Homo sapiens: one gene and its partners. The protein of the gene in region 5 interacts with the protein of the main gene of each other region in a biochemical or structural test. Each region holds a gene or a part of one and is shown on either strand. Other genes may lie near its edges. The genes, in order: WDR77, CTDP1, ESR2, SMAD1, CDK8, MBP and TCEA1.

Region 1 (3,434 bases), on a different chromosome or scaffold from region 5:
CAAGTCTTTGGCACAAAAGTCCATGCTCTTAATCACTATGACATGTTCCTTCTCTTCTACAGGTGATGAGAATGGGACAGTCTCCCTTGTGGACACCAAGAGTACAAGCTGTGTCCTGAGCTCAGCTGTACACTCCCAGTGTGTCACTGGGCTGGTGTTCTCCCCACACAGGTACTGTTCTTTGTCATCAGGGGCCTGATGGGTATAAATGGGAACCGTGAGGGTGTGTGTGTATGTTTTCAAAGCATTAGCTGATGAAGTAGTTCCTTAAAGCAGACAGTGTTCTAGCTGAGGTTTCGGAACATCGAAGATCTCTTAAGTGTGAAGTAGAATCCTTTGGGAGTCAAAGGATTTTTCAGATTAGATGGTTTCTGTCTGAAATGGCTAAAATGTGATTTCATTCCTGCCCAACACCCAAAATGGTTAATGTTGTGGGCTTCTAGGACTGTGAGATTGGAAAAGCCTGTGTTTCTGGGTTATTGCTGAAGCTATAGAGAGGGACCAGATGGGGTGGTTAGTTGCCAGGATGGTTGTCAACCCTAACTTTGCTTCATTTCCCTCATCTTTACTTGAAACTTTTAGTGTGGACTTGTAGTAGCCAGATTAGCCAAAAGTGGGAATCAGGCTGCCTCTCCTGGGTCACTTTACAGTGGCGGCAGGGCCGGCCCAGTTAAGGTTTTGTCTTGGGATCCAGGCTGGACCTTTCACAACCCTCTCCTCCATCTGATAGTGTTCCCTTCCTGGCCTCTCTCAGTGAAGACTGCTCACTTGCTGTGCTGGACTCAAGCCTTTCTGAGTTGTAAGTGTGAAGTGGAATCCTTTGGGAATCAGGGAAGGGGAGCAGTGGGTGGGCGAGTCATTTTCCTCTTCAGAAAACTGTGTTGTGCTTTTGGAGAACAGATTCTCCATCTGTATCCGAAGGGACTTGGTAATGGAAGCAGGCTGGCTGTTGACCCTGTCCATTCCTGGGGCACATTCACAACCCCAAGGACAAGCCGTGTCCTTGGTAGAGGGGGGTGGTAGGTGAAATTTTTAAGTCTAGCCCTCCAGCGCTCTCCCACAAGGGGGCGGCAGTCTACCCTCTCACATAAAGAACTGCGTATGAAATGCAGCCTGCTACAGGGTAAAAGGCAGCACCTGGAAGACCTGAATTGTACTTCCCTCCTTGCCGTGATTTGCTGCCTGTTACTGCCCCTCATCACTGTCTTGTTCTATCCAGCATTTCTTCATCTATGAAAATAGAAGACTGGATTGGATGACTGATGACATCCACTGTGGATAGCTACACTGCTATCCTGGCGATGAGGCCATACAGTTGGTGAAATGTGTGTAACACACCCAAAAAATGTGCCCCAGATGTGTTGGGTTCTCTTTTTTTCTCCAGGTCTGCTTTTCTTGTCTCTACTCTGCCCCGACTTTTTTTCTTTCTTCTAGGTTTAGAAGCCAAGCCCACAGAGACTTTGTGAGAGATGCGACTTGGTCCCCGCTCAATCACTCCCTGCTTACCACAGTGGGCTGGGACCATCAGGTCGTCCACCACGTTGTGCCCACAGAACCTCTCCCAGCCCCTGGACCTGCAAGTGTTACTGAGTAGATTGGATTTAAGACAAAAAGCAAGTCCCCCATGAGTGTCCACTTCTTTGCCCTGCCCTCTCAGCTTGTGAGACAACACAGGAGCCTTCTATAGTATGTTGATATGCTAGATCTGTGCCGTTAATAGGCATCGTCTCTCAGCCTGAGGGAGGCTGGATTCTGGGTTCCTGTAGTCACAGGGAGGAAAAGCTTTCTTAAAAATGGACATGTATGTGCGTGTGAGTGTGTGTGTAGATTTATAGTTTTTGGTAGTGGCAGGAATAAAAAAAATCCATCCTACATCTTCCCTAAGCACTGCCTCTCTCTCACCCCCCAAAACAAGTTGACGAAAGGGTTTTATGTAGCTGTCTATGAGGAATTGGCCGTGTCTGGGTGGGTTATGGGATGTGGGCATCCCTGGGTTCTTGGAAGCAGCTCTTATGCTACTCATAGAGATGGGATTGACTTTATTTTTTTATAGTGCTTAATTCACCATTATGAGAAATGCTTCCAGTCACAAAAATGCAGCCCAGCTCACTCTGAGGAAGAAGCAGGACTTGGTACGGTTTTACACAACTCCTTACCATTAAACTGAATCAGAAATCCATTTTCTGGCTGAATAAAAAGTTTGGCTTGCCTGTGTAATGCCCACTCCCTTCCCCCTGGCTCCCTAGTGATGGGACATATATGAGAGAGAAGTGTTTTTCTATCATAGACACCATAGGGGAAAGTTTGGGGATGAAGGAGAGCTTAAAGGTGTTTCAATTAAGTTAGAAAACTGACACAGGCTGTTGAGAATTCTTTGCCACTTTTCCCACCCCAAAACAGCATGGGGCCTGACATCTTCTGCCCTGGTCCCCTTTCTCTTGATGTGGAAAGTCTGAATGCAGTATTTATAGACTTCTAAGGTTTTAAAATCCAGTATCAAGAAGAAAATCAGAAATACTGGTTGGTGAAATAAAGAGTTTAGGCATTGTTGGCCTGTCTTTTTTGAAGCATGTGTGTTATGTGTAGTTAGATATATTTCACTTATGTGAGTCATCATGGTGTTGGTCTTGTAGCCCATTATTTTTCCTGTGCTTCCCCAGCTTCCCAAAGTAGCTAGTTAGAACTTAAGGTAAATATTTATTCTTGGGTTGGTGGAGTGGATATTGCCAGTTAGGAGTCATGGATCAATTACTGATTATATTGAAAGTAAATATAATCAATTATGTACTTTTGAGCTTTGCAGGTTCAATTTAGGTAAAAATCACATTATGAAACTGGGAAAGTCTGAAGGAATATGGGCAAAATATTTCTCAGTAAAGCTTCCATGCTTCACCCTTGACATGATTACCCTTGAGTAAAACATGGGAATTTGTAGTTGTGTGATCCTCTGGCGTTGATGTGGAGTAGGAATAAAGTCTTGCATCATTTTTATAATGTGGGAGGAAATAGAATGGGTAGGTACAATCACTTAAGTTCTGCCTCTCGAAGATAAAACTTTAATTTTGTGGACACTTAGAGAAAGTAAGGGGTGGGGGAGCTTGAGGTGAGTAGGAATTTGCATAGCCCTTTTCTTCCTGGACTTAAGAATGATGGAGAAAAAACTCAGTGAAAGAGATAAGGAAGCAAATGTGTGGAAATGTGTGATAAGGAAGGAAATGTGTCAAGGTGGTTACAATATGGAAGGGAAGCATAGGTTTTTTTTTTCTTTTGTTGAGATGGAGTTTCACTCTTGCTGCCCAGGCTAGTGTGCAGTGGCATGATCTTGGCTCACTGCAACCTTCGCCTCCTGGGTTCAAGCAATTCTCCTGTCTCAGCCTCTTGAGTAGCTGGGATTACAGGCTAATTTTTGTGTGTTTAGTAGAGACAGGGTTTCA
Region 2 (3,500 bases), on a different chromosome or scaffold from region 5:
CCCTGGTCCCACGCACTTCAGGTAAGGGGTGCTCACCCTGTCCGGCCTCTTCACAGCAAGGTTGCCAAGGCCTGGTCTAGAGGGTGGTGGACTTCACAGCCATGGAGAAGGGTGCTGCTTTAACTTGGAACGTTATTTAATGTTTAATGCTAAATTGCGGTAACTTTTCCTTTTGCATGCATATTTAGTAAATCATTCTCGAGGCACTGAGGTCTCAGAGCCATCTCCGCCCGTGAGAGACCCTGAGGGGGTAACGCAGGCCCCTGGAGTGGAGCCCAGCAATGGCCTGGAGAAGCCTGCACGGGAGCTGAACGGCAGCGAGGCCGCCACCCCGCGGGACTCACCCCGCCCCGGGAAGCCAGACGAGAGGGACATCTGGCCCCCTGCCCAGGCCCCCACCAGCAGCCAAGAGCTGGCAGGCGCTCCTGAGCCCCAGGGATCCTGTGCGCAGGGTGGCCGGGTGGCACCGGGACAGCGGCCTGCCCAGGGTGCCACGGGCACTGACCTGGACTTTGACTTATCCAGCGACAGCGAGAGCAGCAGTGAGTCCGAGGGCACGAAGTCCTCCTCCTCCGCCTCTGATGGCGAAAGCGAGGGGAAAAGAGGCCGGCAGAAGCCGAAGGCTGCCCCAGAGGGAGCCGGGGCGCTGGCACAGGGCAGTTCCCTGGAGCCGGGGCGGCCTGCAGCACCGAGTCTCCCCGGAGAGGCCGAGCCTGGCGCGCATGCCCCGGACAAGGAGCCTGAGCTGGGTGGGCAGGAGGAGGGCGAGCGGGATGGCCTCTGCGGCCTGGGCAACGGCTGTGCCGACAGGAAGGAGGCGGAGACCGAGTCACAGAACAGCGAGCTGTCGGGGGTCACTGCGGGTGAGTCCCTGGACCAGAGCATGGAGGAGGAGGAGGAGGAGGACACGGATGAGGATGACCACCTCATCTACCTGGAGGAGATCCTGGTCCGTGTACACACTGACTACTATGCCAAGTATGACCGCTACCTCAACAAGGAGATCGAGGAGGCGCCGGACATCCGCAAGATCGTGCCGGAGCTCAAGAGCAAGGTGCTGGCAGACGTGGCCATAATTTTCAGTGGGCTACACCCGACAAACTTCCCGATAGAGAAGACGCGGGAGCATTACCACGCCACGGCGCTGGGAGCGAAGATCCTCACTCGGCTGGTGCTGAGCCCCGACGCCCCTGACAGGGCCACGCACCTGATCGCCGCGCGAGCTGGTGAGTGCTGCCTCCCTGTGCCCTGGGCATGGTCAGGCCCGCGGGCTCCTTGCAGGCACTCCTTAGAGTTGGCATTGCTGTTTATCTCACTTTCAATTTTCAGAAACATTTCCCAGAATCACCATCTTTTAAGAATAGATCATGACAGTGGGTGAAATTGGAGTTTGGGCACGTTCATGCTTTCAGACCGCAGTCATCGCACACACCATTCAGGGGTGGGAGTTACTCGTGTGTAGAAAGTTCAACCTTCTCCCTGGAGTAAGCCATGGCCGGGTTGGAAAACAGGGAATCAGCGATAGGGACGTAGTGGAGAAATTCGAGGCAGGAACAGGAGTTCGCAGGTAAAAGATTGACAAACCCTCTGAGTTAGAAAACTAAATGCAAGGTTTCAGCTGAAACGTGCACAGAAGGACACGTTGTGGCTGGGAGGGCGGAGGACAGGCCTGCTGTCTCCCGACGGTGAAACCTGTCCCGGACGGGGCAGGCTGCTCTGACATGTTGAAACTTCCGCCGAATAAAACAACCTTTCAGCAATAGGTGATTCTTGAAGGAAGACTTAACACCCCGGTGCTTAAAAAACCCAAATACCTCGTTATTCTAGTTATTCTGTGAAAATGCTCCCATAAGCACCTGGATTTTCCGCGAATGAAGATTGCGGTTTTTCTCCTCCAATCTGCTTCCTGTCCTGGCGGCGTTTCCTGAGAGGGCTTCTCAGTGCGTGGCCCCGCCTCCGGGGCTCAGGAAAGCCTTGTGGGGTGAGCTCATCCCTGTCCACGCACGCTCCCTGACAGCAGGTGTGGTCTTATTTGAGGCCACGGCTCTGGCACGTATCATGGGGCGTTGGACACGCATGTGCTCAGTAAAGCATTTGAATCAAGGGTAAATGGAAGGTTCCATCTCAGTGTGAAATAGCCAGGTGCTAGCTGCAGGGCAGAGGCGGGCTTTCCGTGGAGCCCAGCGAGACCCTTGATCCCAGGAGAAAGCCAAGCCCTGGCCTCCTGTGGGCAGTCAGACCCTTCTCTCCTGAGCGTGGAGCCGGGCCAGGCCGGGGTCCTCCTTGGCCCCTCAGGTGCCTGTCTGCCCTGCCGCGTGTCTGCCCAGCTCCTGACCCTTCTCTCCTGAGCATGGAGCTGGGCCAGGCCAGGGTCCTCCTTGGCCCCTCAGGTGCCCGCCTGCCCTGTCCTGTGAGTGCCCAAGCTCCTGGCCCTTCTCTCGCATTCCTTCCTTCCCCCTGAATTGTGCTCACGTTTCCTTTTTGCTTCTGTGTACGTGGCCTCACTGTTGAGAGGCTTTGCTGAACACATGCTAAGAGAGGTCCTCCTGCTGCTCAGGTCACCCGCTGTGCCCGGCTCCCCGTCTGAGATCCACCCCTTCCCACCATGGCTGCCTATCCCTGGCCTGGCAGATGGGAACCTGCAGTGGGCAGCCCTGGTGGGGTGCAGCCGGGTGAGGGCCCTGGTGGGGTGCAGCCGAGTGAGGGCCCTGAGCCCTAGTGGGGTACAGCTGGGTAAAGGCCCTGAGTCCTGGTGGGTACAGCCGGGTGAGGGCCCTGAGCCCTGGTGGGCTGCAGCCGAGTGAGGGCCCTGAGCCCTGGTGGGGTACAGCTGGGTGAAGGCCCTGAGTCCTGGTGGGTACTGCCAGGTGAGGGCCCTGGGCCCTGGTGGGGTGTAGCCGGGTGGGGGCCCTGGTGGGGTGCAGCCGAGTGAGGGCCCTGAGCCCTGGTGGGGTACAGCTGGGTGAAGGCCCTGAGTCCTGGAGAGGTGCAGCCGAGTGAGGGCCTTGGTGGGGTGCAGCCGGGTGAGGGCCCTGGTGGGGTACAGCTGGGTGAGGGCCCTGAGCCCTGCAGGGGTGCAGTCAGGTGAAGGCCCTGGTGGGATGCAGCCGAGTGAGGGCCCTGAGCCCTGGTGGGGTACAGCCAGGTGAGGGCCCTGGTGGGTGCAGCCGGATGTGGGCCCTGAGCCTCCAGTGCTGGCCGGAACAGCCTGACGCAGCCGGGTCTCCTGCAGGCACAGAGAAGGTGCTGCAGGCACAGGAGTGCGGACACCTGCACGTGGTCAACCCTGACTGGCTGTGGAGCTGCCTGGAGCGCTGGGACAAGGTGGAGGAGCAGCTCTTCCCGCTCAGGGACGATCACACCAAGGCACAGAGGTGGGTCCTCGCTGCACCCAGCAGGTCCGTGCCAGGCGTTCCCTTGCTGGACAGCTGTTGGTTCATGCACCTGGGCAGTGCCCCTCATCACCCGGACGCCCCGCTCATGGCCCTCGTTCTCTTCCT
Region 3 (3,500 bases), on a different chromosome or scaffold from region 5:
GACAGGTCTTGAAAATGAAGGGCTTTTAGTGGAGAATCTTTGTGTGGGTGTACTTGAGAGAGGGCAGGAGAGTTAGGGTGACCTAGAAAGATAGATTGCTGGACTTGTATATGTTTCCTCAAAGCCAGACTGCAGCATTTTGTTAGTAAATTGTTGTGTGTTCTACTGTCAAACCCAGGCCTGGAAGGGGAGTTGAGTGCATTCAGCCTAACTTCTGGATTGGCTGTGTCATCTTGAATCCCTTCACTCGGAATTCTCTCTGACCCTGTCCCAAATGAATATTTGAATTTGGTCCAGTTCCTACAGAGCATGGTCTGTGGCTGTTGTTGGTGTTAGGGAAGAGCAGAAACTTGCTGTTGAGAGAGAAGACACTTGAGAAGACTGATGAACTCTCTCCCACCCCTGCCTTCGAGGCTTGGTCCTCCTACCCTATTCAAACCCTTGAAACTCTTTCCTATCCAACTAAATAAGCGCCAATTGGTTACTAGGAGAATTAGCTTTTCCTCATTTTAGAAGGAAACAGGGTTTCCTTATGTACATGTTCTTAAGAATTACATGCAAATCAGTTATTAATGATGAGTTCTCTGGTGATTTTGGAGTGTTTTATCTTCCTAATATTAAATTAATTGAGGGCCTTAATATTTTGTTTTGAAAGAATATATTTAAAAAGGCTGGGTGTGGTGGCTCACGCCTGTAATCTCAGCACTTTGGGAGGCCTAGGTGGCTGGATCACTTGAGGGCAGGAGTTCAAGACCAGCCTGGCCAAATAATGAAACCTTGTCTCTGTTAAGAATACAAAAAATTAGCTGGCCATGGTGGCTCAAGCCTGTAGTCCCAGCTACTCAGGAGGCTGAGGCATGAGAATTGCTTGAACCTGGGAGGCCGAGTTTACAGTGAGCCGCGATCATGCCACTGCATTCCAGCCTGGGCAACAAAGCAAAACTCTATCTCTAAATAAATAAATAAATAAATAAATAAGAATACATTTAAAGATAATAATTGGCCAGGTGTGGTGGTTCATGCCTGTGATCACAGCACTTTGGGAGGCCGAGGTGGGAGGATTGCTTGAGGCAAGGAGTTCAAGATCAATCTGGGCAACACAGTGAGACCCTATCTCTACAAAAATTTAAAAATCAGCTGGGCATGATGGTGCATGCCTTTAGTCCCAGCTACTTGGGGGGCTGAGTTTGGAGGATCCCTTGAGCCCAGGAGATCAAGGCTGCAGTAGGCCATGATCTTGCCACTACACTCTAGCCTGAGTTACAGAGCTAGAGTATAACCCCCACCCCCCAAAAAAGCTAATAATTGTCAAACAGCTACTTATGCACATCAAGGATGCTTGTTGCTTAAGAAATCTTTTTAAATCTTTTCCATGAAATTCCTTCTAGTTGCTGCTTTGTGAGCGTGAATTTTTTACTTCTGCAGGACACACAAATGTGGAGCATTTGAACTGAATGCTTGGGAAAGTGTGATGGGCAGGTGGAAGAAGAATAGGGATGAGGACTTATCCTCTATTCTTATCCTCCTAGACTTATCCTCCTAGTCTGCAAGCTTGAGAATATGGCATCAGGAATATGTGGCATTTTGTCCACACACACAGTGTTGGCAGGCTACCAGCAGCCCAGCTATCTGGACTAGGGGTGATGGATTTCTGTGGACAGAAGTCAAAAAGTAAAATTAGGAGGCAAAAATCTTCAGGGTGGCCATAAAGACATTGTAACTTGTCTGGAAATTCCAACCAACACTAAATGTGTATCCAGTGATATACCAATAGACTGGCTTCATCTTCTTGGATGTGTAATAATACCTTACAGAATGCTTTCTTTTTTTTTTTCTTTTTCTTTTTCTTTATTTTTTTTGAAATGAAGTTTTGCTCTTGTTGCCCAGGCTGGAGTGTAATGGCACAATCTCAGCTCACTGCAACCTCCACCTCCCAGGTTCAAGCGATTGTCCTGCCTCATCCTCCCGAGTAGCTGGGATTACAGGCATGTGCCACCATGCCCGGCTAATTTTGTATTTTTAGTAGAGACGGGGTTTCTCCATGTTGGTTAGGCTGGTCTCAAACTCCCGACCTCAGGTGATCTGCCCACCTTGGCCTCCCAAAGTGCTGGGGTTACAGGCGTGAGCCACTGCGCCCGGCCTCAGAATCCTTTCACAGACATCATCTCATTTCACCCTCAGAGCACCGTGAAAAGGTACAGCACCAAATAGGTACCTGATTCTACTGAAGAAGATGTGGCAGCTCAGGGAGTTTGTGGATTTGTCTAAGATTGCCTGGCTTTCAGGCAGAGCTGGGGCTAGAATGAATGTTCTGCTCTATCCATTGATAGAATATACATAAGAACAGGCTTGATGGTGGCTGACCTTTTTTTTTTTTTTTTTTTTGAGACAGAGTTTTGCTCTTGTCACCTAGGTTGGAGTGCAGTGGCGTGATCTCGGCTCACCGCAACCTCCACCTCCTGGGTTCAAGCGATTCTCCTGCCTCAGCCTTCTGAGTAGCTGGGTTTACAGGCAAGCGCTGCCACACCCGGCTAATTTTGTATTTTTAGTAGAGACTGGGTTTCTCCATGTTGGCCAGGCTGGTCCCGAACTCCTGATTTCAGGTGATCTGCCCACCTTGGCCTCTCAAAGTGCTGGGATTACAGGCATGAGCCACCCGCGCCCGGGTGACTGATTTCTTATTAACTAGATTTACAGGTGCTTTGATAAAAACCAGTCTAGTCTTGGCTGGCACGGTGGCTCATGCCTGTAATCCCAGCACTTTGGGAGCCCAAGGCGGGCGGGTCACGAGGTCAAGAGATCAAGACCATCCTGGCTAACATGGTGAAACCCCGTCTCTACTAAAAAATAGAAAAAATTAGCTGGGCATGGTGGCGGGCACCTGTAGTCCCAGCTACTTGAGAGGCTGAGGCAGGAGAATGGCTGAACCCGGGAGGTGGAGCTTGCAGTGAGCCAAGATTGCACCACTGCACTCCAGCCTGGGCAACAGAGCAAGACTCCATCTCAAAAAAAAAAAAAAAAAAGTGTAGTCTTTTTGGAGTGTTTTTCTGCCATTTCTAGGGCCAAACTTTTTCTTGTCCATGAATCATTGTCAAAATTGGGAATTTTAAATACTACTTTTTTCTTTTAATTCAAAAGCCATAGTATGTTTCCCAGCCAGTACATTAGAACACCATGCACGATCCCATGTGTACAAAAAGCTTTCTGGCTGAATTCAGATGTGACCTGAGAGGGCCAAATACAGGGGTGTGTGCTGGGAGAGAGAGAGAGGTCTCTGGACAGAAAACAAAGCCTGTTCACCACCCAGGATATGGACCAACTATTTTAGGTTATGGTGACTAAAGAAAATTGACATGCAAATAAATGAATAATTCTTAGAATCAGGATGTCTGGGTACTGGTTCTTTGGTTGGCCAGGTGAAATTCCATGCCAGGCCCAACAATTAAACTCTTTAGAGACAATTTTTTCCTGTTGTACCAGAACATTGTACTGAGGCCATG
Region 4 (3,500 bases), on a different chromosome or scaffold from region 5:
TTAAAACTTATGTATAAAAATATATTCTGAATCAACAGAGAGACCCCTCTCTCCTCCTCTTCCCAAACAGGACCTAGTGAATATTCATTTACATCCTGAACTCAAAAGCATATACATGCATAATTAACAATTGTATGTTCTTTCTTCAGATCCAGGCTTATTGTCTCAAAAAAAATATTTGTTAAGAAACCAATCTATACTGCAAACCTAGGTTCTTATTAAAAAAAAAAAAGTTCCTTTTTCAAACACTAAGAACATAAAAGAGATTTGGGAAAATCACCAGGTAAGGACTTCCTCACACCTTAGAGAATTTAATGCTTTATTTTCAAGAGAGAGTCTTCTCTAAAGTTCAGATTTTAGCTTATAACAAAAATTATAAAGATGCTGAACTGTTCAAATACTGTAGTTCCCAGTACCTTACTAAAACTCTGATGTAGTCACTGGAGTGAAACTGCTTATGAAACTTTTGGCTTTTCTTTTCTGAAAGATAGTTTCCTTTATGCAAATGAATGTTCTAGAGAAGCCGCTCATTTCTGCAAGTCAGCCCGCAATAGCTACAGACATTACTGTTTTGCATATAGGACTAGCCCTGCACCTCTAAAACTGACACCATCTTAATAACGCAGAGCAAGATGAGTATTTTAATTTAGATTTTAAGCAATTACATTAATACTATTTGGCTCTGCCTTTTTCTTCTCTTTCCTTTTCTTTTTAAAGGTGGCTACAGCAGAGTGATGAAAATACTTCAGGTATTTTTGCTGCAAATCAGATGCCAGATCAACAGATTAGACTGAATATTTGTACTACCAGATAACAGCAGGAAAGGAAAATAAAGGGTCAAGAGGTTTCAGATTGGGGCAAAGAGGACATGCCCCTATTTGTTATCAAAGTATGTCCTAAAATCTTGGTACCAAAGAGTAAAACCACATATAGAAGTAGCAGAACATTTCATCAACCTCAAAGACATGCTATGACTTAAAACCGATTTTTTCCACTTTTTTATATTTAAATTATCCTTTTTCTCCTCAGACCTGTCCAATTCTCTCCCTAGGACTCCCTAGCTCCCTAAATACCCCAAACTTTAGCTTTTGGTTAGGAATGTGATTTGTTTTCGAGAGTCAAGAGGAGATTCGTATATTTTGCTAGATGTCAGAGTTGCCTGCTTTAATTTGAACTTTGTGCAATCTTGGATCTCCCATTTTCTAATAAGGTCTCATTGATTAAATTAGATATAGGGCTTTTCTTTTCCATCTCCAGAATGAAAAAGAATCAATTTTAATATGTAGAAAATAAGCATTTCTCTCTGGTTGTCAGATTTGATTCCTACTTAGCTCAAACAATGTTAGGTATAAAAAGTTGCTAACAGGCCAAAAAATTCTTTCCTCCCTTCCCTAAATTACACTGGATATGCTTACACCAAAGCCTCAGAAATATCGTGAGCGTGGTAGGGAGAAAAAAAACCTGAAAACAAAAGGGCACTTAATGCCAAGAGGAGTCCAGATCTTGGCTTTCCCTTTTCCAATCACTAGACAGGTAACTTTGGATGTCAGTTACCTTCTCTGGACTTCAGACTGTTCACCTTGATATGAACCAACCAGATTAGAAAATCTTTAAAGCAACTTTTAATACTAAGTATCTCTATTCTCTGTAAAGGAAATTACAAATCTTAATGTTTATGAAAGCACTTGGCAGTCCCATGGACATATTTCACCCGAAAGACCATGAGATTTGGATAGTTAAGTGTACACATTAACTCACCATGACATATAAGCATTTTGGGATAGGAAGGTGGGAATAAGAAGATACAAGATCCATAGTTTCATCGATTCTTAAACAGCCCTGACCTTGTAAAACATTTACAAAAATAGATGTTGAATGTTTTTTTAAAAATCCCCAATGAATTTGCAATTACTATTCTTACAGTGTTTAACAGCTCAGGGAAGATAGACTAATTTTGGTAAGACAGACAAACTGAATTACTACAACTTTCCTCCTAACTTAATATCAGTTTGTGATTATGTAAGAAAATGCAAGAGGAAAGTGACAAGAATTATGCAGAAAAGCAGAGATAAAACTAATTTGGCTTTGAAATGCATTATTTTCATGCCAGATTTATTCTTCAAATTATGTGCTGCTTAGATGAGCATTATTTTTCCTTTCTTAAACACTTACAAAAGAACGACAGAAGATAGCCCAGAAAGGCACAATAGAAGGTAAATTTATTTAAAGACCTACAAAATACACAAGCCAAGTCATGTCTATACTGGCATAGTAAAGCACAGCAGAACAATGATGATTTGGGTCTTCTGAACGAAAGACCAAAAAACATAGTTAAGATGGAGTTTCTAGAGTTGGACTGCCTCGATCATATCCCAGGTAAGATTAGAAATCATAATCATTCACTGTACCTCCTGAAGCAAGATACTGAATCATTCTGTCCTCAGTTTCTTTACCTGTAAAATGTGACAACAATAGTACTTATGGAAGTTTTGAGGCTTAAATGAGATATGGGTATTATAAACAATGCCTGGCATACATACAGTAAAAATTCAGAAAAAAGGGTTAGCTACAATTATTTCTTCTCTCTAAGGCTCTAAACCAAATTAGAATCGATGACACTAATAATAAATAAGATCTACAGAAAAGTCAAACTCCTTTTATCCAGCAGCTTCAACTGTCCCTTCCAAATTGTGTTTTATTTTAAAAAGAACAGCTAGTTAGTGATAAAATTAGTTTATATATGTCTTTCCATCTTTGACTCCACAAATCATTAGTAGAGTTAACAAGTGAGAAGAGGTAAAGGTCCTGGGGCAGCAATGGCTAGCAGAACCTCCTGTGATGATGGAACTATTCTATATACACGCTGTCCAGTATGGCAGCCACTAACCACAAGCAGCTACTAAGCACTTGAAATGCGGCTACTGCTGAGAAAACGAATTTTTATTTAATTTTAATTTAAACTTAAATAGCTATAAGTAGCCGAGTGCAGTGGCTCACACCTGTAACCCCAACACTTTGGGAGGCCGAGGCGGGAGAACAGCTTGAGCCCAGGAGTTCAAGACCAGCCTGGGCAACATGACGAAACCCTGTCTCTACAAGAAATACAAAAACAAATTAGTCAGGCAGACATGGTGGCAGTGCCTGTAGTCCCAGCAACTTGGGAGGCTGAAGTGGGAGGACTGCCTGGGCCTGGGAGGTCGAGGCTGCAGTGAGCCATGATCGTGCCACTGCACTCCAGCCTGGGTAACACAGAGAGACCCTGTCTCAAAAAAATAGAATAATAAAATTTCAAAAAAAGCTACGTGTGACTATGGCTAGGATAGCAGAGCCCTAGATAATCCATAAGCTAAATAAGGATTGTCAGAAACTTAAGCAAAATAAGGATCTTCTTTTCCTGAACTGTTTATATGTTCAATTCAAATATCTTTGTTTCTGGTATAGGCCTGGTAAGTTTGACTAGTTAAAGAAATAACATGTCAGTAGATATCAATACAGTGAAA
Region 5 (3,500 bases):
AGCCCTGCAGCATTCGCAACAGTGCATGGACAAGATTCCGATGCAGCTCAGTACCGATGTGTCTGATGTGAGTACTGTGGAGGCTGCTGGGAGGTAGCTGAGTATCCCATGCTGCTCTGCGGCTGTGATGTGCTTGGTCCAGGGTTGGGATAGGCAGCATGTGGATTGGAACGCTGGAAAGGAGATGAGGGAAAAGTGTGATTCAGGTGCTTCTAGGGGAAGCTCAATCCCAATATGTGACTGAAGTGTCATTATGTTTCAAGGAAGAAAGGATGTATAGGTTTTGTGCTATGTACTAACTTTATAATTAAAGACAAAAACCCCAAATATTTTAACATCCTCTTCTCTTGAGGAAGGTCAGAAATATTGCTAGTAAATAATATTAAGCCTAGGCTTATTACTATGCTGTGCAAATACATTTTTTTCTACAGGAGTAACCCCTTTTTATGCTGTTTTGTATCTACTTGGTAAATTTGCTTGAGATGTTTACCCAGAAACTTAATGATGTATACATAAAAAATTCAAAGCTTATTTACATGCTTTCTTCAGTAGAAAACTCACCCCCACACACATGACTGAAGAGTAAAAGTGAGTATGATAGGAGAAGGTATCACAGAATCCATTTCTTTGGCATTAATACATTTTTATGCCCTTTAAACTATTTTTTTTTTCTTTTGAGACAGGGTGTCACTCTATCATCCAGGCTGGAGTGTAATGGTATAATCATTGCTAGGATTATAGGCATGCACCTCCATGCTCAGCTAATTTTTAAAAATTTTTTTTGAAGGAACAGAGTCTTGCTATGTTGCCCAGGTTGATTTCAAACTCCAGGCCTCAAGTGATCCTTCCCCTCAGCCTTCTAAACCACTGGGATTACGGGCATGAGCCACAGTGCCTGGCCCCTTTAAGCTACTGAATCTTATTTTCTGCTACAAGTTTATATACAAAAGTAAAAATATAACCACAGTAAGAAGGACGGTATTCTCAATTCTAAAATGGCACAAAGAGAAAGAATGTGATGGTTTGGGGTTCTCTAATTTTGATATGTTAGATTATTATTCCCATTCTCACACCTCTCTCTCATACTATTTGCTCCCAAGACAAACACTATAAAAGATTAACCAGAACTTATTACTTCTGTCTTTCAAAGCATATTTAATAAGACATATAATTCCAAATTCTGCCAATCCTAGAAAAGGTAACATTTTTAAAAAGAGTGGACACATGAAATGATAGTCACAAATACTATTTTAAAATTCATCCACAAAAAACCAACAACAATCACACCAACAAAGCAGCATGGCATCATTTTCTCGGTTCCAGAAGCGAAGGTCAGAGCACTGCTCTGCTTCCTTCTAAGGATGCCATCACCTTAGTGTGCAAACACATTTGTGGGCCAAGAGAGATGCACTCTTCCCATCCGGAAAGGAAGAAAAAGATACTGGAACCAACAACTCCCACAGCTGTCTGCCCTTGGTGTCCTTGTTTAGCTAACTGGAAGAGAATTACTACTCACACAACAGTGATTTCCATGGTGTGATGGGCTGGACTTCTCCCCTAACCAAAAGAAAGAGTTAATACCTAATTCTGAAAGTACAGTAACGAGCACTCGGGACCTTATCAGTTTAATAACATCTCTTTCTCTCTCTCTTTTTTTTTGTGTGTAAATAATTCTAATTGGTCAGATTTTCAGTATCCTTCCCACACTGAACCCTTGTGTAGTTGGGAATATGGTTAGAATAAGCAGAAGAGAAAAGGAGGTGGTATACAATTTTCAAAGAGGGTCTTTCCACAACGTAACTGACAATGCCATGATAGGATCCCTAAGCAGGCAACATAACAGCCTTTGTGGTCAGATCAAATATGAGTCCTGCATCTACAGCTTGCTGGGGATCCATGTGAAAGTTATTTAACCTCTACAAGCCTCAGTTTCCTGAAATGGCTGCAACACTTAACCTCCCAGAGTTATCTCATTTAATCCTTACTACAGCTTCACATTGATCATTATCCAGTCTACAAATGGAAACTGAGAACATCTGAATCACTTACTCAAGGATACAGAGAAGTAAGTGGCCAGACTGGGATCTGAAAGCCTATGTTCTTAATCACTGTGAAACATTGTTCCAAAACAATAGCTATCAAGCTCCTACCATAAGCTAGGTGTCAAGCCACTTCATGTCTAATCTGACAACAGCTGCAAGTTAGGTTTTACTAGTTTCATTTTACAGATGAAAAAACGCCAGGAGATATTATCCTACTTGTCCAAGGTCACACAGTTAATAAATGGCATAATTTGTATTTGATCATTCCAAGTCTGGTTCAAAAGTCTAAACCCTTGCTACCATACCACTGTCAGTACTTTTCCATGCCAGTAACATTTCATGTTAATGTATTTCCCTGGGTATACAGACGTCAGTATTTCTCAATTAAATCACATTTTCCCACGATCATAAACCCATATGTAAACACTGACATGCAGTCAATACAAAATAAACTTGGAATACCTGATAGTCTGAGGTCATGATAAGTCCACCTGAGGTAGTGGTAGGAGGAACAACTCTCACTTTCTTCAACGGGGGTCCCTGTGTGTGACTGCTGTCTTGATTCCCTGGGTGGCCAGTTCCATTAGTGTGGTTATTGCCCTGCTGCTGCTGCTGGTTCTTCTCAATTGGTTAAACAGAAAAAGTTCAGCTCAGAGGGAGAACAAAATATACCCACAATGGAAAATGTTATGGAGGCATTCACGAAACAAGAAGCTGCTAACAGTACTTTAATACTTACTTTGTCTCCTTTGTCATCAGGTTCTTCTTCCGTTAAAAATTCTCGTTTTGGGTAAGGGATTTGACAACCGGCAAAAACGCTGATCATAAGAAAAAGAAAAACCATTTCTGGTATACTAATCAATATTCCAAATGCTTCATTTAGGAGATTCTCATTTTAATCTTTTAAGATGAACTTTGTCTCCATATTTGCAAATATAAGCACCTTTCATGTAACTGTGACAAAACGAATCTTTTCTTTGTAACTAGTAATATTACAGCAGGCTACTTGAGGGCTTGAGCTGTATACAAATGATCAATAATCATCGAGTATGATTCAGCTTTCTTCTTTTATCCCAGCATTACTCTTCTATTAATACAGACCAAATATAGATTCTAGCTGAAGTATGTGTCACCATTCAAAGGTAATTTTTGTTTTACCCTTCCTACTACATTTATTAACAAAACAAAAGATGGTATAGGGAACACATTTGGGAATATTTGCAATTTTGGAACATGAAACTGTAACTGCAGACAGTAAGGAGCTACAGCACGCATAACCAACCTGTCACTGAATAGCTGGATCACTACTGAAACTAATGTGATCAGCATTTCATAAAGCAAGAGATGAACAGGAATGCCTCTTAACTGGAAAGCCCCTAAATGACACTTTAATCAGCAAAGCTCATTTTTGCTTGTCATAAAGGATTTCCTTGGGTTCCCATATAAGAGGAGGAGCAA
Region 6 (2,226 bases), on a different chromosome or scaffold from region 5:
GCACTGCACTCCAACCTGGGTGGCAAAGTAAGATCCTGTCTCAAAAGAAAAAGAAAAAACAAAAGAGACTTTCGTCTATCTTTTTGAAGAAAAATTCTTGTAACCAAAGGTAACTATAAGTAAAACATTGCTTCACGCTCTTTCATGCTTTCAGAGAAAAAGGTGGCAAGGGGAACACGTCCAAGACTCCTGGGTTCACATCTGCAGGGTGTGTACACTAGCCACACAGCAGAACACAGACAGACTTGGAAGCTTGTCTTCAGAGACACTAAATATTTTTTTCCTGGTGAGAGAATCAGTGCCCTAACAACTACCTCTGTTCCACTTTCTTCAGTAGCCATCGACCCTCTGATGAGGATGCCCCCTCCAACAGGCACCGCCAGGCAGCCCTGCCTGGAGACCCAGAGGCACCGAGTCACATTTGCTCTGCACACCTGGCTCTCGCTTGATGTGGGCCTGTGTGCTACAGCCCGGAACACAAAAGAAGACACCCATGCAAATACCATTAAAAGTTTATTGTTTTATTTCAATATTCAGGAACAGTGTACACTTTCCGTTCAGCCATCGTCACAGCACGTGCTGTGTGGGTGCGGCCACGTATGGATCGCAGAGCCGACCTCAGCTCAGCGACGCAGAGTGCTTCTGCTGAAAAATTTGGAGGTTTGTGTCTGGAGTTTTGTTCTTTGTAACTCTCTCATCATCGAGGCTATATATTAATAGACATGGTATTAAGCCCACACGAAACATTCAGAATTAGAATTGGATTAAGAAGACGCGTTTTGGCATCACGCTGACTACTCCTCATCTCCGTCCTCGGGGAGGGTGATGCCAGCGTGGGACTCTTTGGAAGGCCTATCAATCACAGGTGCGCTAAAATCAAAAGGTGGGTCAGTAGGTTAGGGAGGGAGGCGCGAAAGGAGATGCCAGCGGGTGTTAAGAAGGATATGGTCAGAAGAGCTCTTTGTCTCCATCCACGGGGCCGTCTGCTCAGCCCGTGTGTCTCGGTGAGTAATTCGGGAGCAGGTGCACGCCTGTGCCTACTCGCTACCACGCGTCTTCTGGGAGGAAGTGAATGAGCCGGTTATCTTCTCAGGGAGGGTTAGTGCTGGCCACTGTGCACTGCCGCTGCCAGCACGCCCGGTCACAGCCAGTGTCTATGGGCGACTGGCGCGGCTGCGAGGCTGTCTAGAGGACTCCTACCCTTCTGCTCTGAGTGCGCAAGTCTTCCTGGACTCTCCGGCTGTGGGCTGTGGTTTGGAAACGAGGTTGTTCATAGAGGCTGCTCTGGGGCCACCATGCAGGGCAACGGTGACGTCCAGAGGCCACCTGCTTGACATCTCCATCACCAAATCTCCAGGAAGACCCTGTTTCCTATGTGAGGCCATTGCCCAGCCCACGTTTGCCTCCTTTTCCTCCCTCTGCCACACGCGAATTCAGCTAATTGGGGTGTGTGGGCAGCCACGGCCTGGGGAGGTGGCCCCCTCTCTGTGCTGCCCCACGTTGGACTCTAACAGCTGCCCAGCCCGCATGTCACATACCAAAAGCTCCCACATGTAGTAAGCCACTCCTTGACTGTCTAATCCTGTTAGGAAAAATGAAGTCTACTTTAGGAGGTGAGAGAAGGACAGGAAAAAAAAACAAAGGAAGCTTGGATGTCAACAGTCCTCTCTGCCGCCCACGTCCTCTCTGTCTCTGCAGCTGTGTGCCTCCATGGCAGTGACCAGCAAAAGCGCAAGGGTGCCGCAGCCACGGCGAAAAGAAAGTCCAAGGGTGGAGGGGTGAACGTGGAGGGACGTCTGTGCACCTGGCCCCCTGAAGACCCACGTGCGTCTGGGGGCACATTGCGGGGGAAGGAACGTGATCTTCACACAGAAAGGGACAGTTTTAACCGTTTTCTGTTTTCATGTTCTCATTTAACTGTTGGCCGGAAATTGCCGGTAGGCTGCCGTGGCCTGACCCTACTACGTGCACAACTCCGCAGGCATTAGGGGAGGGGTCATCTGCTCTAATTAGGTAACAGGGGCAAGTGGGATTAAAGTTTTAAGGCAGTTATATTAAGAAGCTGAGGACAGGATTCCGGAACCAGGTGGGTTTTCAGCGTCTAGCCATGGGTGATCCAGAGCGACTATCTCTTCCTCCCTGAAAAGGAAGAGAGAGGAGTTAGGACGAGAGTGCCGCAGGGTCCTCCCACACCAGCATCCCCTCTTCTGTGGTCCCGGGTGGATG
Region 7 (3,500 bases), on a different chromosome or scaffold from region 5:
AGGGACATGCAAATCAAACCCACAATGAAATACCACTTTACACCCACTAGGAAGGCTATAATCAAGACAAATGATATTGGTGAAAATGAGGTGAAACTGGAATCCTCACACACTGCTAGTTGGAATGTAAAATGGTGCAGCCACACTGGAAAGGTCTGGCAGTTCCTCAAAAGGTTAAACATAGTTACTATATGACCCAGTAATTATTCTCCGAGGTATACACCCAACAGAAATGAAAACATATGTCGCCAGGCGCGGTGGCTCACGCCTGTAATCCCGGCACTTTAGGAGGCCGAGGCGGGCAGATCATGAAGTCAGGAGATCGAGACCATCCTGGCTAATACAGTGAAACCCAGTCTCTACTAAAAATACAATAGCCGGGCATGGTGCTGGGTGCCTGTAGCCCCAGCTACTCGGGAGGCTGAGGCAGGAGAATGGTGGGAACCCGGGAGGCGGAGCTTACAGTGAGCCATCACACCACTGCACTCCAGCCGGGGTGACAGAGCGAGACACTTGTACAGCAATGTTTTTAACAGTATTATTCACAACAGCCAAAAAGCTGAAACAGCCCAAATGTCCACCAAATGATGAATGAATAAGCAAATCGTGGTTGGGTGCAGTGGCTCACATCTGTAATCCCAGCACTTTGGGAGGCTGAAGCGGGTAGATCACCTGAGATCAGGAGTTCTAGACCAGCTTGGCCGACATGGTGAAACCCTGTCTCTACTAAAAATACAAAAATCAGGCCAGGCGGTGTGGCTCACGCGTGGAAATCCCAGCACTTTGGGAGGCCAAGACAGGCGGATTATGAGGTCAGGAGTTTGAGACCGGCCTGGCCAATATGGTGAAACCCCATCTCTACTAAAAATACAAAAATTAGCCGGGTGTGGTGGTGCGCGCCTATAGTCCCAGCTACTCGGGAGGCTGAGACAGGAGAACTGCTTGAACCTGGGAGGCGGAGGTTGCAGTGAGCCGAGATCGCGCCACTGCACTCCAGCCTGAGCGACAGAGCAAGATGAGACTCCGTCTCAAAAAAAAAAAAAAAAAAAAAAGACTATACTAAGCAAAAGAGGCCAGTTACAAAAGACCACATACTGTATAATTTCACTGACAGAAAATTTCCAGATTTGGCAAACACACAGACAGAAAGTATATTAGTGGCTGTCAGAGGCGTGTGAGAAATTGGTGGGGGCAAATGAGGGCTGAATGAGGAGTGACTGCTTAATAGGTACAGGGTTTCTTTTTGGAGTGATGAAAATGTTCTAAAATTATACAGTAGTAATAGTTGCACAAACCCGTAAATACACTAAAAGCCACTGAATTAACAGTTGACCCTCAAATAACATGGGTTTAAACTGCACAGATTCACCTGAGAATTTTCTTTCACCTCTGCAACCCTAGATGACAAAACCAACTCTTCCTTTCTCCTCAGCTTATTCAATGTGAAGACAAAGAGGATGAAGACCTTTACGACGACACATTTCCACTTCATGAACAGTAAACATATTTTCTCTCCTTTATTTCTTTTCTTTTCTTTTTTGAGACATTGTCTCGCTCTGTCACCCAGGCTAAGTGCCTATAATCCCAACATTTTGGGAGGCCAAGGCAGGCAGATCACTTGAGTTCAGGAGTTCTAGATCAGCCTGGGCAATATGGTGAAACCCCATCTCTATAAAAAATACCCAAAAAAGGCTGGGCTCAGTGGCTCACGCCTGTAATCCCAGCAATTTGGGAGGCCGAGGCAGGTGAATCACTTGAGGTCAGGATGTGGAGACCAGCCTGAGAAAAATGGTAAAATCCCATCTCTACTAAAAATACAAAATTAGTTGGGTGTGGTGGCACGCACTTGTAGTCCCAGCTACTCGGGAAGCTGAGGTGGGAGAGCTGCTTAAACCCAGGAGGCGGAGGTTGCAGTGAGCCAAGATCATGCCACCACACTCCAGCCTGAGTGACATGACTGCATGAGTTATACTACTACAAAAGTTATACTACTTGACTGCATGCGGGTAGGGAGGGGGGATAGTGTGAGCACCACAACCCTTGCATTGTTCAAGAGTCAACTACACTTTAAGAATGAATTTAATTCTATTTCTCGATAAAGCTGTTATTAAAAATTGTATAGTCATTCTAAATTTTGAATTATGCTAATTAATCTAACTCTGATATAGATATCAAAGTTTTGTTGCAGTTGTTATTTTAACTGAGGTACTTGGAAATGTAAATCAATATTTCAGGTATCCCAGCTCCTACGAAATTCTAACATCTAATTTCAATTTCTCTCCCTGCAATTTAATTCCACTCAACCTTGAGCCTTCAATGAAATAAATAAATAAACCTCAGCACTACCCACAAAATCTCTCCATGAACTTCAAAACTTTATGTCCTTGCCTCACTCCTCCTTCTATAATCTAAATGAATCCTTTACAAAGAAAGGCAACCTCAGATTGTTTTTTAGGCCTTATTACATCCTTTAGGCCCACAATCCTACACTAGAAGCATTTTATATTCACTTAATCCTTACTAAATTATCTCCAGTTTACCATGACGAGAAACATTTTAGTGATGACAAAGAACTTGCCTAAAATCACACAGCTAAAGTTCAGAAAAGTTCAGAAAAGCCAGGATTTGAACCCACATTAGCAGTCAGACTTGGTTACTGACACCGAATCAAAGTGACAAGAAAACAGCTTAAGCAGAAAACAGCTAATACCTAAAAATTTCGAACTACTTTCTGTGGTTCACTGTGGCTTGGTCATGTGCACTTGAGATCAAGTACACATGTGGGACAACATCTTGGGTAGAACTAGGGTCAGGATATTGATCTAGGTAACTAGGGAAACACACCTGCCCCAAAACAGCAAGTTCATACTCTTACTTCCTGATTTTGTATTCACTTAATTGTATCCATGCATGGTTCAAGAGCAGATGCAAGGGTCTTCTAGAGAGACACTGTAGCTTAAGAGAGGAGTACTAGCTTTGGAGCAAAACAGATTTAGATTCACATCTTCACTTGGCCATTCACTAGCTATTTGGCTTAAGACTATTCTAAATACTTAGCATCCTCATTTTCAGAATGAGGATAATACTCATCTTGCAAAGTTGCCTGAGGAATAAATGGGATAAGGTGGGTAAGTATTTAGCAGAATACCTGGCTCAGAGTAATAGCTCAATAAATGGTAAGCTGTTTTTAGTTAAGTGTGACACCTATGGTTTTAGTAAAACAAAATTATTCAGGTAAAGCAGCAGCATGTTAAAATATTTTTTTAAATGATATCTAAATTTGCACTTAAATTTGTCAATTCTGATGACAACTATTACTCTTCAAAGTTAACTTTTTCAGGCTGGGCGCAGTGGCTCACATCTGTAATCCCAGCACTCTGGGAGGCCAGGACGGGCAGATCACCTGAGATCAGGAGTTCAAGACCAGCCTGGCCAATACGTTGAAATCCCATCTCTACTAAAAATACGAAAATTAGCCAGGCATGGTGGTGCACACCTGT

What was found.
Region 1: the proteins of CDK8 (region 5) and WDR77 form a complex in vitro, tested with the Homo sapiens proteins (one study listed by BioGRID).
Region 2: of the proteins of CDK8 (region 5) and CTDP1, one has a biochemical effect on the other in vitro, tested with the Homo sapiens proteins (one study listed by BioGRID).
Region 3: the proteins of CDK8 (region 5) and ESR2 form a complex in vitro, tested with the Homo sapiens proteins (one study listed by BioGRID).
Region 4: of the proteins of CDK8 (region 5) and SMAD1, one has a biochemical effect on the other in vitro, tested with the Homo sapiens proteins (one study listed by BioGRID).
Region 6: of the proteins of CDK8 (region 5) and MBP, one has a biochemical effect on the other in vitro, tested with the Homo sapiens proteins (one study listed by BioGRID).
Region 7: the proteins of CDK8 (region 5) and TCEA1 form a complex in vitro, tested with the Homo sapiens proteins (one study listed by BioGRID).

The regions. Positions count from the first base shown.
Region 1 is NC_000001.11:111,439,390-111,442,823, reverse strand, and holds the end of WDR77 (methylosome protein WDR77), read left to right. Parts: intron 1-62; coding exon 63-171; intron 172-694; coding exon of another isoform or gene 695-730; coding exon 731-799; intron 800-1,434; coding exon 1,435-1,594; 3' UTR 1,595-2,934; downstream 2,935-3,434. UniProt on the Homo sapiens protein: Non-catalytic component of the methylosome complex, composed of PRMT5, WDR77 and CLNS1A, which modifies specific arginines to dimethylarginines in several spliceosomal Sm proteins and histones.
Region 2 is NC_000018.10:79,714,303-79,717,802, forward strand, and holds part of CTDP1 (RNA polymerase II subunit A C-terminal domain phosphatase), read left to right. Parts: intron 1-188; coding exon 189-1,226; intron 1,227-3,232; coding exon 3,233-3,374; intron 3,375-3,500. UniProt on the Homo sapiens protein: Processively dephosphorylates 'Ser-2' and 'Ser-5' of the heptad repeats YSPTSPS in the C-terminal domain of the largest RNA polymerase II subunit. This promotes the activity of RNA polymerase II.
Region 3 is NC_000014.9:64,287,872-64,291,371, reverse strand, and holds part of ESR2 (estrogen receptor beta), read left to right. Parts: intron 1-3,500.
Region 4 is NC_000004.12:145,484,853-145,488,352, reverse strand, and holds part of SMAD1 (mothers against decapentaplegic homolog 1), read right to left. Parts: intron 1-3,500. UniProt on the Homo sapiens protein: Transcriptional modulator that plays a role in various cellular processes, including embryonic development, cell differentiation, and tissue homeostasis.
Region 5 is NC_000013.11:26,400,629-26,404,128, reverse strand, and holds part of CDK8 (cyclin-dependent kinase 8), read right to left. Parts: intron 2,861-3,500; coding exon 2,782-2,860; intron 2,664-2,781; coding exon 2,505-2,663; intron 174-2,504; coding exon 48-173; 3' UTR 1-47.
Region 6 is NC_000018.10:76,978,333-76,980,558, forward strand, and holds the end of MBP (Golli-MBP), read right to left. Parts: exon of another isoform or gene 2,140-2,226; coding exon 2,095-2,139; 3' UTR 501-2,094; downstream 1-500. UniProt on the Homo sapiens protein: The classic group of MBP isoforms (isoform 4-isoform 14) are with PLP the most abundant protein components of the myelin membrane in the CNS. They have a role in both its formation and stabilization.
Region 7 is NC_000008.11:54,015,949-54,019,448, forward strand, and holds part of TCEA1 (transcription elongation factor A protein 1), read right to left. Parts: intron 1-3,500.